Homo sapiens: one gene and its partners. The protein of the gene in region 3 purifies or fractionates together with the protein of the main gene of each other region. This does not show direct contact. Each region holds a gene or a part of one and is shown on either strand. Other genes may lie near its edges. The genes, in order: LRRC47, CNKSR2 and TNIP3.

Region 1 (3,730 bases), on a different chromosome or scaffold from region 3:
CACTATGGTGAGCTCCTGGGAGTGGAGGACCACCAGGCTGCCTAAAGAGGAGTGAACCAGCCCAGGTCAGAAACAGAGCAGGACAAAAAGCTCCGGTGCTGATCAGTAGTGGGACTGCGCCTATGATTAGCCACCTCACTCCAGCCTGGGCAACATGGCGCGACCACATCTTAAAAAAAAAAAAAAAGAAAAAAGGCACAGCTGGGCGTGGTGGCTCACGCCTGTAATCCTAGCAGTTTGGGAGGCTGAGGCAGGCAGACTGCTTGAAGTCAGGAGTTCAGGACCAGCCTGGCTAACATGGCGAAACCCCGTCTCTACTAAAAACACAAATATTAGCCAGGCATGGTGGCAGGCGCCTGTAATCCCAGCTACTCGGGAGGCTGAGGCGGCAGAATCGCTTGAACCTAGGAGGTGGAGGTTGCAGTGAGCCAAGATCGTGCCATTGCACTCCAGCCTGGGCGACAAGAGTGAGACCCCATCTCAAAAAAAAAAAAAAAAGCACACACCTGAAAACATACCTAAAGGGTAAAATGGACGACTCAAAAAGTTCTTTACACAAATTAAGTGTAATATCAAGGGCCCAAGCATAACAAGCTTCAAAGAACAAAGTATTCTGAAGCCTGTGTTTACAGAAATCACTGGGCTAGTTACGGATGATCATCTTGCTTAGAGCAGCACCAAGGACCCTGACTTGGATGATACCCAACAGCGCACGGTATGGATAAAATGCTGTGGGTTGGGCTGGCATTTATGTCTGTTTCCTAATGGCTAGTTTATATCCTGTCCTGTCCCATCCTGAGGGCCACCCGCCCCCTGTGGAATGGCCAATACCTCCGCTCCTAACACCTTCCACTTCCCTCACGTCAGGGCCATCTAGATGACAGACTGGTTCCACAACGTCTCCTTTGGAAAGAGAATGCTTTCTTTGTACCCTGTTAAGAAGCTTCTGGGTTCTGGTAGCATTAGGCGGTTCCTGAGGAGCACAGACTAACTCAGCTGAGGCCAGCATGCGGCACTCCCCCGGGCCCGGCCCCACCCCACCAGGCACGCTGCCCACCTGTGCAGGCCCGACACACTCTGCCGCTTCTTCTGCTTCCTCTGCTCCTCGGCCTCCAGCTGCAGCTGCCGCACCAGCTCCTTGGCCTTGGCTTCTTTCCGCCCCAAGGGGACAATCTATCGGGCAGAAACCCACAAACTCCACTAGGGTCACAGCCACAGAACTCGCCCATCGTGTCGATTACGGCCTTAAGCCTCAATGAGCCCTCCCGACTCCCGCCCTCATTCATCTCTACAGCAGGCAGGGAGCATCCCACGGGACCACGCAGCAAGAAGCTGCATGTGGGCTGCCACTGCAGCGTCCCGGGGAGACCTGACGCCCAAACACACCGATCCTACTGAGGCAGGGCTTAACCTTAAAGCCAGCTCATGCACAACTGTTTCCAGAGGTCTGCCATCCTCAGAAGGCCAAAAGAGGAGAGAAAGGCTGAGCAGCCGGGACCTCGTGCACTCCACAGATTCAACAGCCCAGGACAGCACGACACAGCAACTCACCCTACTGCCAACCCCACGCAAACGGTTTTACTATCGGGACAGAGACCAAAATTTCTGATTAAAAGGTAGTGAGCGAGTGAAGGAAACCATTTTCCCAACGACTGCTCATCCGCCGAGTCCTCTCACAGCTGTGCACCGCTTCGAGTAACCGCAAACGCGGTCTGTTTCATTATTTCATGTCTTTGCAAGAACAGCATCGGATCCTACTCTAAAGAAAATGTTCAGGCCGGGTGCGGTGGCTTACGCCTGTAATCCCAGCACTTTGGGAGGCCAAGTTGGGCGGATCACCTGAGGCCTGGAGTTTGAGACCAGCCTGACCAACATGGAGAAACCTCGTCTCTACTAAAAATACAAAATTAGCTGGGCGTGGTGGCACATGCCTGTAAACTCAGCTATTCGGGAGGCTGAAGCAGGAGAATCGCTTCAACCCAGGAGGCAGAGGCTGCAGTGAGCCGAGATTGTGCCACTGCACTCCAGCCTGGGCAACAATGGAACTCCATCTCCAAAAAAAAAAAAAGTTCGGGCTGCAGTAGCAGCATGGCGTCTTTCGACACCAAGGAGACTCTTCAGCAGACCCTGCAAAGGAGGCTGCAGCACCTTGAGGTCCTGTGGGGGCCGGGCGCAGTACAGCAGGGGCCCTTTGACGGCACGGAGCTCGTGGGTGGCAAGGGTGGCAGCCGTCCTCTTCTCACAGAGATCTTCGTGGAGCTTGGTCTGTAACACAGAAGCAGTGATGAGCAAGGTCTCTTGTGCCCTGAAGCCCAGCGAGGTGTCCACACTTCACCCTTGGCTGGGCTGTGTGCCAGGAAACCCTCCCGGTCCAAGGTCTTCACAACCACGCCACGCCCCTTTCCGAGACAGGGCTCCCCTCCAACTCCTCTCCACCCGGCCAGCCAGGCACTCACTTTGTGGAATCACCATCAGGAAAACTATCTTAACCTATCAATCAGCAGACTTTCTTCCTTCTCTAATTCTGACATAATATTTGAGATTTCAAAGAACCCATCTTGAACTAAAATGTAAATAAAGGCTGAGCTTTAAGTTGTAAAGCCCTGGCTGTGATGCCTGTTCCCTTCCTCCCCAAGCTGCAGGCAGGACTCTCACGACAGTCACTCTCGGCCCGCCATGCTCTGTCGCTGCCACTGCGGGGCGCACGAGACTTTCCCCTGGGCACAGAGGTGCTTTATATTTTAAAAGTTGGTCAGGTGTCACAGAAAAGCAACTGGGAAGTTAGTCTTGCCAAAACCTAAACAATTCACAGAAGAATGTGCTGGCAAGAGTTGATGACTTTAATACTGTCTTACATAAAACAAAATGTGTGATTTACTGCAGAAGTCAGAAAACCCACCAAAATATCAAAAAATCAAGGAACCCTGATTTTCCTTTTTTTTTTTTTTTGAGATGGAGTCTTGCTGTGTCACCCAGGCTGGAATGCGGTGGTGCAATCTTGGCTCACTGCAACCTCCACCTCCCAGGTTCAAGTGATTCTCCTGCCTCGGCCTCCCCAGTAGCTGGGATTAAAGGTGCTCACCACCACGCCTGGCTAATTTTTGTGTTTTCGGTAGAGATGGGGTTTCGTCATGTTGTCCAGGCTGGTCTCAAACTCCTGACCTCAGGTGATGCACCCACCTCGGCCTCCTGAAGTGCTGGGATTACAGGCGTGAGCCACCGCACCAGCTGGAACCCTGATTTTCAACTGCAATAAAGCTATCCAGAAATTAGGATAGGCCAGGTGTGGTGGCTGACACCCGTAATCCCCACACTTTGGGAGGCCAAGGCGGGTGGACTGCTTGAGGTCAGGAGTTCAAGACCAACCTGGCCAACATGGTGAAACCTCATCTCTTTTAAAAATACAAAAAAATTAGCCAGACATGATGGTGAGCACCTGTAATGCCAGCTACTCAGCAGGCTGAGGCAGGAGAATCACTTGAACCCAGGAGGCGGACGCTACAGTGAGATTAGACTGCGCCACCGTACTCCAGCCTGGGAGACAAAGCGAGACTCCTTAAAAAAAAAAAATCAGGATAAACCGTTAACACCATATGTGGAGGAGCAAGGGATACGACCAGTGACCAGGACCAACCAGGCCAGGGTGCAGGCGTCTGTGAAGAGGCCATCTCCACGCTGGAGACACCTGCCTCCCGGAGGGGACTGAGGCCTTACCCCCTCCTCAGCAACA
Region 2 (3,500 bases), on a different chromosome or scaffold from region 3:
TTATTTTATTTTATTTTTTTGATACAGGGTCTCGTTCTGTCACCCAGGATGGAGTGCAGTGGCATTATCACAGCTCACTGCAGCCTGGACTTCCTGGGTTCAAGCGATCCTTCCACCTCAGCCTTCTAAGTACCTGGTACTACAGGTGTATGCCAGCACACCTGGCTAATTTTTAAATTTTTTGTAGAGATGTGGTCTTGCTACATTGCCCAGGCTGGTCTTGAACTCCTAGGCTCAAGTGATCTGCCCTCCTCAGGCTCCCAAAGTGCTGGAATTACAGGCATGCCACCATGCCCAGCCTCAGGTTAATTTTTATAATTACAATTCTCAATTACTACCAATACAGATACCTTCTGGCTATTTCTTTCATGTAAGTGGATGGTTTGTTGTGACATGGTAAGTCACCAGTAAATCACACACCCTTACCTACCATTTAAAGAACTGACAAGTATATCAAGCACCTTTTGTGTTAGGCCAGGGGTACGGAGGGCACTGCCTCAACTTTTTAAAAATGCAGGTTTATTCACCACAGATTTGCTTTTTATTGGATATGCATAGCAAAACTTGGTATTACTATTAGTATAAAAAGGACTACCTCAAGAAAACAAAAACTTATACATGAAATGTACTTAGCTGCTGTGTTTGTCATATATGTTACTTATTTGTTCATATACTTGGCCATTACCATGTGCCAGAACCAGTAATGACTTAGAACTGATTCAACACAGCCATTTAAGTCTTAATGAATTTATGCTAAGTTCATATCAGCCTTCTCTTTCAATCATATGCATGCAAAAGCATTTGAAAGAAATAAAGAAATGTATTTAACATTTTAGAAAAATAAGGTCAGCTATATCCTCACTAGTGGCAAATTTTCACTAACCACTTAACTAGAAATACTTAATATTGGCAACAACAGATTTTACAATGTCAATGCCATTTTATTCAGAGTTCTTAATTTGAATGCATCGTGTAGCACCTTTTTAGCTTTATAATACATTGCTTTATAAATATGAGTGAGTCCTAAAAGGCTTGCTTTAATGAATTTTTTTGGAAAATAAATTATTTTAAGATGAATGAACCAAGCAATTATGTTGCAAAGAAACAAATCCCAGCAATTGCAAACATCAAATCTTTCATGCAAAATGCCTGAAATTATAAGTACATGAAAAATGAAATGAAAACTGTTCTTATCCTGTCATAAATGATTTATTTACAGTTCCTAATAAAAAGTGTATTGTCAGAACACAAATTAAGGACCATACGTTAAGCTATATATATATTTTTATTTACATTTTTACTCTTTCAGTTAATATCTTTGCTCTCTATTAAAGCATACTAAATTATAGCTTAATAGCTTGAAATATTATTACACCTCCAAATCATGAACAGCTTACTTCTTTCTAGAATAACATGATGCAAACAATATATCTGATGCTTAATAAATATATGTTGCATGAATAAACAAGTGACTAAATAAACCTTTGATTCTCATCAGCTGCCATAAACATTTATTCACATAAGGAATAACTTCAAGACAAGGTAGACGAAAATATAGTATAGCTTAAAGAAACAAAAGGAATCTGCTAATTTTTCTATGTCTTCCTTTATATGAGGAACAGAAACTTCAAAGTCAAAGGCTATGCAGGTAAGAGAAAAATTATGCTTCTCTGAAGAAAGACAGAGAGTTTAATTCAGTAAGATAACATTAATTTAGCATCTTTTATGAGCTAAGCACTGGGCAGAAAGCTGAATAAAAAATATGAACTAAACAAAGATGTCTTCCTTTGAGGAGCCCAACATGAATTAAAGGATAAAAGAACCTAAGCAAAGAATTGTAATACAAGGTGTTAAGTTCCCTTTTTTCCCATCACTTCCCATTCTGCACAAGCTAAATGAAAATTCTCAATTTTCTCTGAATATTCCATATTCTTTCACAATTCTGTCTTTACACATGATATTTCTTCTGCCTAGATAACTTTTCTCCAACTTTTTGTCTGGCAAACATCTCATCATCCTGCAAGACCAAATGCATATCTTACCTACACTTCCTGAATCCCTCAGAAGTGTTCATTTCCTTCTACACTCCCCTGGAATTTTCTTTAAATCTATGTTGTCTTCTGATGGCTATTGTCTTTCTTAATGGACTGTATATGTTTCAGGAGTACAGACTGTCTTTTTCATCTTTGCATTCCCCGTGATAGCACTGTTTGAGCATGAATATGTAATTGTTGAAAAAGAAATGAATACAGTAGACATAAGGAAAATGTAGAAAGGCCAGTAAAGATCAGAGAGACAAGACTTAGCAGGGTAAACGGAAATTCAAAGAGTAGTTGGGGATAGAGGGGAAGGAGGTAAAGATATAGTCCCAATAGCACAACTTCCTGGACTAGTCAACTCAGCTTGTTGATAAGGAATCTCACCTCCTGATTTCATAATGGTATGTAGAAGAAAATTAGAATTCACTACCCAGAAATTTGCTTTATATTCCCCAGAAAGCATCTGTTGCATAAACTGAAATACATCTGTACTTCTGACTTGTTGATGTATATCCACTACATTAGGAAGGGGTAAGAAGGAAGTTTAACATTTGACCTCTTTGGGGACTGCGACTAAGGAATTGCTGAATAAACAGAAAAAAAAATGGTGTTTAAATTTATTTTCCGCATTAACTTCCAGAAGAGCTCAATCACATAATGAACTATCCAAATGACATGACTTAAACCTGGTGCTTAAACCCAGAACTGTACAGGGATTAAAGCTCAGCATCAGAAAGGATTCACCACAGCTACATGGTTCAAACTTAGAAGTGGTCTAGACATCTATTTCTGATGCCATCCTTTTAAGTAGGTTTAGGTCGGCAGAGCCTTGTTCATGGGTCAAACTTCAAACGTCTAGACTGTATGTATGTAACACTGTCAATCAATATTCTTTCCTTTCTCAACTGGCAGTGTGAGAGCCTAGCACATGAGTGGTTCATCTATGAAGAGCCCTGCTTATGAGACATACACTCTGGACTTAAGGTTCTGATATACCCAAGTCTTACTGTTATAAAAGATGTTACAAACAGGGAACTGTTATTTGGCACTAATATAATAAATTTAAGGAAGGAAGAAAATATCAGGTCCAGCTGGTTGAGAATCAGAGTTTTTTTCTTCTATTTGCATTTCGATTATCAAAAGAGGAGAAGAAAAAAGGGAAAAGCAACAAAAGAAGAAAAAGAGAAGTTTCCCTCTTCACCAGTTTTATGTCCTTACCAATGCACACAGAAGGTCAACTGCTTCCAAGATCAGTTCCTGATGGCCAATGCGGCTGACCCCCAGATCTTCTAGCTCCTGATGTGTAATGCGCAGCAGCTGGTCCCCACTGATCTTCTCCCTCTCAAAGTTCTTAATATACTGCTGCAAACAGTCATCAAGACCTACAAAATAAAAGTATGAAAGACCAGAATGAAAACATGGTCAAACCAAATAAATGTGAAGGGTGGGTTAGAAGCAAGC
Region 3 (3,730 bases):
ACTTACTGATTTTTGTCTAGCTAGGAAAAATGTAGTGAGCTTTGTGATGTATAAACATACCATGTAACAGTGTCTACAGATGTAAAACTACAACAAAAAAATCTCCATGATGTACCAACCTAAGCTTTTTTTTTTTTTTTTTTTTTCGGAGACAGTCTTACTCTGTCACCCAGGCTGGAGTAGTGCACTGGTGTGATCATAGCTCACTGTACCCTTAAACTCCTGGGCTCAAGAAATCATCCCACCTCAGCCTCATGAATAGGGCTACAGGCATGAACCACCATGCCCAGCTAATTTTTATTTTTATTTTTTGTTCAGATGGTGTCTTGCTCCACCTCCAGTCTGTTGCCAGGCTGGTCTCGAACTCCTGGCCTCAAGTGATCCTCCTGCCTCTGGCTCCCAAAGTGCTGAAATTTCAGGTGTGAGCCACTACACCCGGCCTGTTTTTAAAGCATTATTTCAATCTTCACAACAAAGCTATGAAATAGGTTTTGTTTTGCACTATTTAACACATGAGGAAACTGAGGCTTAGAGAATTTAAGTAACACGCCTAAATCACACAGTTAATAAAATTTAGCAAGGGGATTAGATTATTTGATATATAGGATTCTAAAACATATGGTTTGAATTATATAGTACAGTGCCCCTCTTACTGTACCTCTCTCACTTTATTGAAATTTTCTGAAAGTATAGATACAAAAATGAGAAGGGGACTCTAACATAGATAATAATATGACTAGCATTTAACCCTCAATAATCTCATCTTTGTGTGAACTCACAGCATGCTACTCATTTGACATTTAGAATATCACAAGTAAAAGGCACGGTACTATGTAAGATTAAGTGTGTAATAAATATGTTATGAACTAACCTGTGCATGGACAGCCCTGGTGGAACCTGACCAGGATATGTTGTCATTTGAAACCTATCCTTTTCCATACTAACACAGCTCTGCAACTAACTATGGCTGGCCAGCAGCAGAGAAGAGGGCTGATCATGGTTAGGGCACCACCAAAAAATTCCTCACTCAAAAGTCTACCTGTTTGGGATTCCTATGCCTCCTTTACTAGCTTCCACAGTTGATGTATTTCATAGCTTAAGCCATGTCATAAGAATTGGCAGAACTCTGACATCACTCTTGTCATAAATGATGGATGTGTCATTATTTAATTTCAGTAGTGGTTCTTGCTGGTTTGGGGTTCATTTAATTAAAACGGTCCTTTTAATCTGTTGGTGTAACTGAATTGCTCAGAATTCTCATAAAATAATTTTGTGGTATTGACTATTAAGAAATCACTAGTTTAAGGCCAGGAGTGGTGGCTCATGCCTATAATCCCAGCGCTTTGTGAGGCCAACGTGGGCAGATTGCTTGAGCCTAGGAGTTCAAGCCCAGCCTGGGCAACATGGTGAAACCCTGTCTCTACAAAAAAATACAAAAATTAACCAAGTCTAGTGGCATGTGCCTGTAGTCCCAGCTACTTGGGAGACTAAGGTAGGAGGATCACATGAGCCCAGGAGGCCAAGGTTGCGGTGAGGTGAGATCACGCCACTGCGCTCAAGCCTGGGTGACAGAAAATGACTCTATCTCAAAAATAAAAAAAAATAAAAAAAAAGAAGAAGAAGTAACTTCATGCATTTGAAAAGGTATGGCAGATAATGAGTGATTAAATTTCAATGATACCACTAAATCCTCCTCTAACATTTCTGGGGCCTGGAGCAAGAATAAGTGGAGAGCTACATCCTATCTGTGTAAATCTCATGAATCAAGCATAGAAACTGTTAAAGTATAATCTATCCTCCTACCTTGATAAACATACATGGAAAACCAAAGTACAATTTACAATGCTCAGTTTCAAAACCAGTCTGTGACAGGACATGGTGGCACAGGGAGACCTAAGCCCTGGCCTCCTGCCTGGGACCCTCGACCTTCTCTCCCCACCTTCCCATCATAAGGACTCTTGAGTGCAGACTTGAAGACAGCCCAGCTGGGAGATCCCACCCTTGTCCATACACCCCTCACCACTCTACACACAACACTCTTTCGACAGCCTTCAGGCTGGGAAGAGGACCACATGAATCTTGGAAGCAGGCCCAGAATCACCTGGGCAGGGACTTCGGGGATGTGCATTTGGGTGCCAGGAGGAGCTTGTTCTGGAGGAAACGTCGCTCACACTGTGAGGAAGGGTGTGGCTGGAGGAGGGCTAGAGCAGAGTCCTCTATAAGATGGGGACATCAGTGAAGGGCTTCCTGACTAGGGACTGAGGGTGGTAGGTGCTGAGTACCATGGTGCACAGACTTCCAGTCAACTAATTTCCAGCTTTGCTCTCAGTTACTGTCTGTGGTTATTTCAGAATGCTTTGGAGACACATTGAAAATCAACCCTTCTTTCAAAAACTAAAGATTTTAAATGAAGGGTTTCGAATGTTTTCAAGTCATTTGAGACTTGGCTTTCTCTCTGTATAGCATTAAATAATGATGTTTTTAATACATTGAAGTCCACAGATATTAATGAGTTACAGCTTTTGTTTAGAAACGTGATTTTACAAAGAACATTTTCATCTTGTTTCATCTGTTATCAGAACGAGATGCAAAATGACTTCCATGTTTATAGAACAATTATGTCATAACAGAGTTAGTTTAACCTTGAAAAACATGTTGTTTGTTTCTTCCTTTCTGAAATGTCAAAAAGCTATGGTTTCTGATTGCATTGCATGCCAGTCACTTCTGTACATTCCAAATTTTTCATAGGGTACAGAGTTATGCTTTGTCTAATGAGCCAGAGATGGATTATTAATGTATCTAGAAAGGCATAAAATGTAGGGATGTGAAACTGTGTTGTGAAATTACTTCTTTACAATATAGAAGATCAAAGCCTAAATATTATGATTAGCTTTTACTAATGTCTAATACTAACCAATTAAATACTGACTGGATTTGTCTCCTAGGATTGCCATAACAAAATACCACAAGCTGGGTGGCTTAAAATAGAAAAACTTTTTTTTTCATAGCTCTGGAGGTTAGATATCCAAAAATCAAGATGTTGGCAGGGCCAAGCTCCTTCCAAATCCTCTGGGGAGGAGACTTCCTTGCCTCTTTCAGCATCTAGTAGCTCCAGGTATTCCTTAGCTAGTGGCAGCATCACTGCAATCTCTGCCTCGGTCTTCACATGACCATCTTCCATCTGTGTCCAAATTTTCCTGTTCTTACACACACACCAGTTACAGTGGATTAAGGCCCTCCTCCCACCTTCACTGTACATTTAGGGAAATTCTGCCTTCCCTTCAAGAACCTAAAGACCTATCTTTGTTTTTGTTCAGATTTCCATTCTGCCGTGGATTATCTCATTGGCCACAGCCTCTCTCCATCTAAAATATCAGGCTATTGATCTTTAATTCTATGCCTGTTTCACAAGAGCACTGTACAAATTGAAAAGGAGTTAATTTTAAAATATTTAAGATACCTAGGGAGAGGTATCATTAGTGGATTTATTTAATGTTAACTTCAGATTGGTTAGATCAATTAATTTATGCTTCTGAGTTCAAATTTATGTTCTCAACATATTAGATACCTTTTTAACATAGTGACCACAGTCCTCAGCAACATAATTTTTCAGCCTGGAAAAGTAACTTATTATCTTCCTATTTGCTTTTTCTGTTACCAAAATGTTAGTTTAGCACATCTTTGGTATACCAAATGAGGACAACAAGTACAAAACATTCAGCATATTTTT

Evidence for each region.
Region 1: the proteins of TNIP3 (region 3) and LRRC47 purify together in Homo sapiens (co-immunoprecipitation; one large-scale study listed by IntAct). This does not show direct contact.
Region 2: the proteins of TNIP3 (region 3) and CNKSR2 purify together in Homo sapiens (co-immunoprecipitation; one large-scale study listed by IntAct). This does not show direct contact.

The regions. Positions count from the first base shown.
Region 1 is NC_000001.11:3,782,939-3,786,668, forward strand, and holds part of LRRC47 (leucine-rich repeat-containing protein 47), read right to left. Parts: intron 2,266-3,730; coding exon 2,149-2,265; intron 1,174-2,148; coding exon 1,058-1,173; intron 1-1,057.
Region 2 is NC_000023.11:21,426,418-21,429,917, reverse strand, and holds part of CNKSR2 (connector enhancer of kinase suppressor of ras 2), read right to left. Parts: intron 3,422-3,500; coding exon 3,258-3,421; intron 1-3,257.
Region 3 is NC_000004.12:121,133,274-121,137,003, reverse strand, and holds part of TNIP3 (TNFAIP3-interacting protein 3), read left to right. Parts: intron 1-318; coding exon of another isoform or gene 319-425; exon of another isoform or gene 426-1,226; intron 1,227-3,730. UniProt on the Homo sapiens protein: Binds to zinc finger protein TNFAIP3 and inhibits NF-kappa-B activation induced by tumor necrosis factor, Toll-like receptor 4 (TLR4), interleukin-1 and 12-O-tetradecanoylphorbol-13-acetate.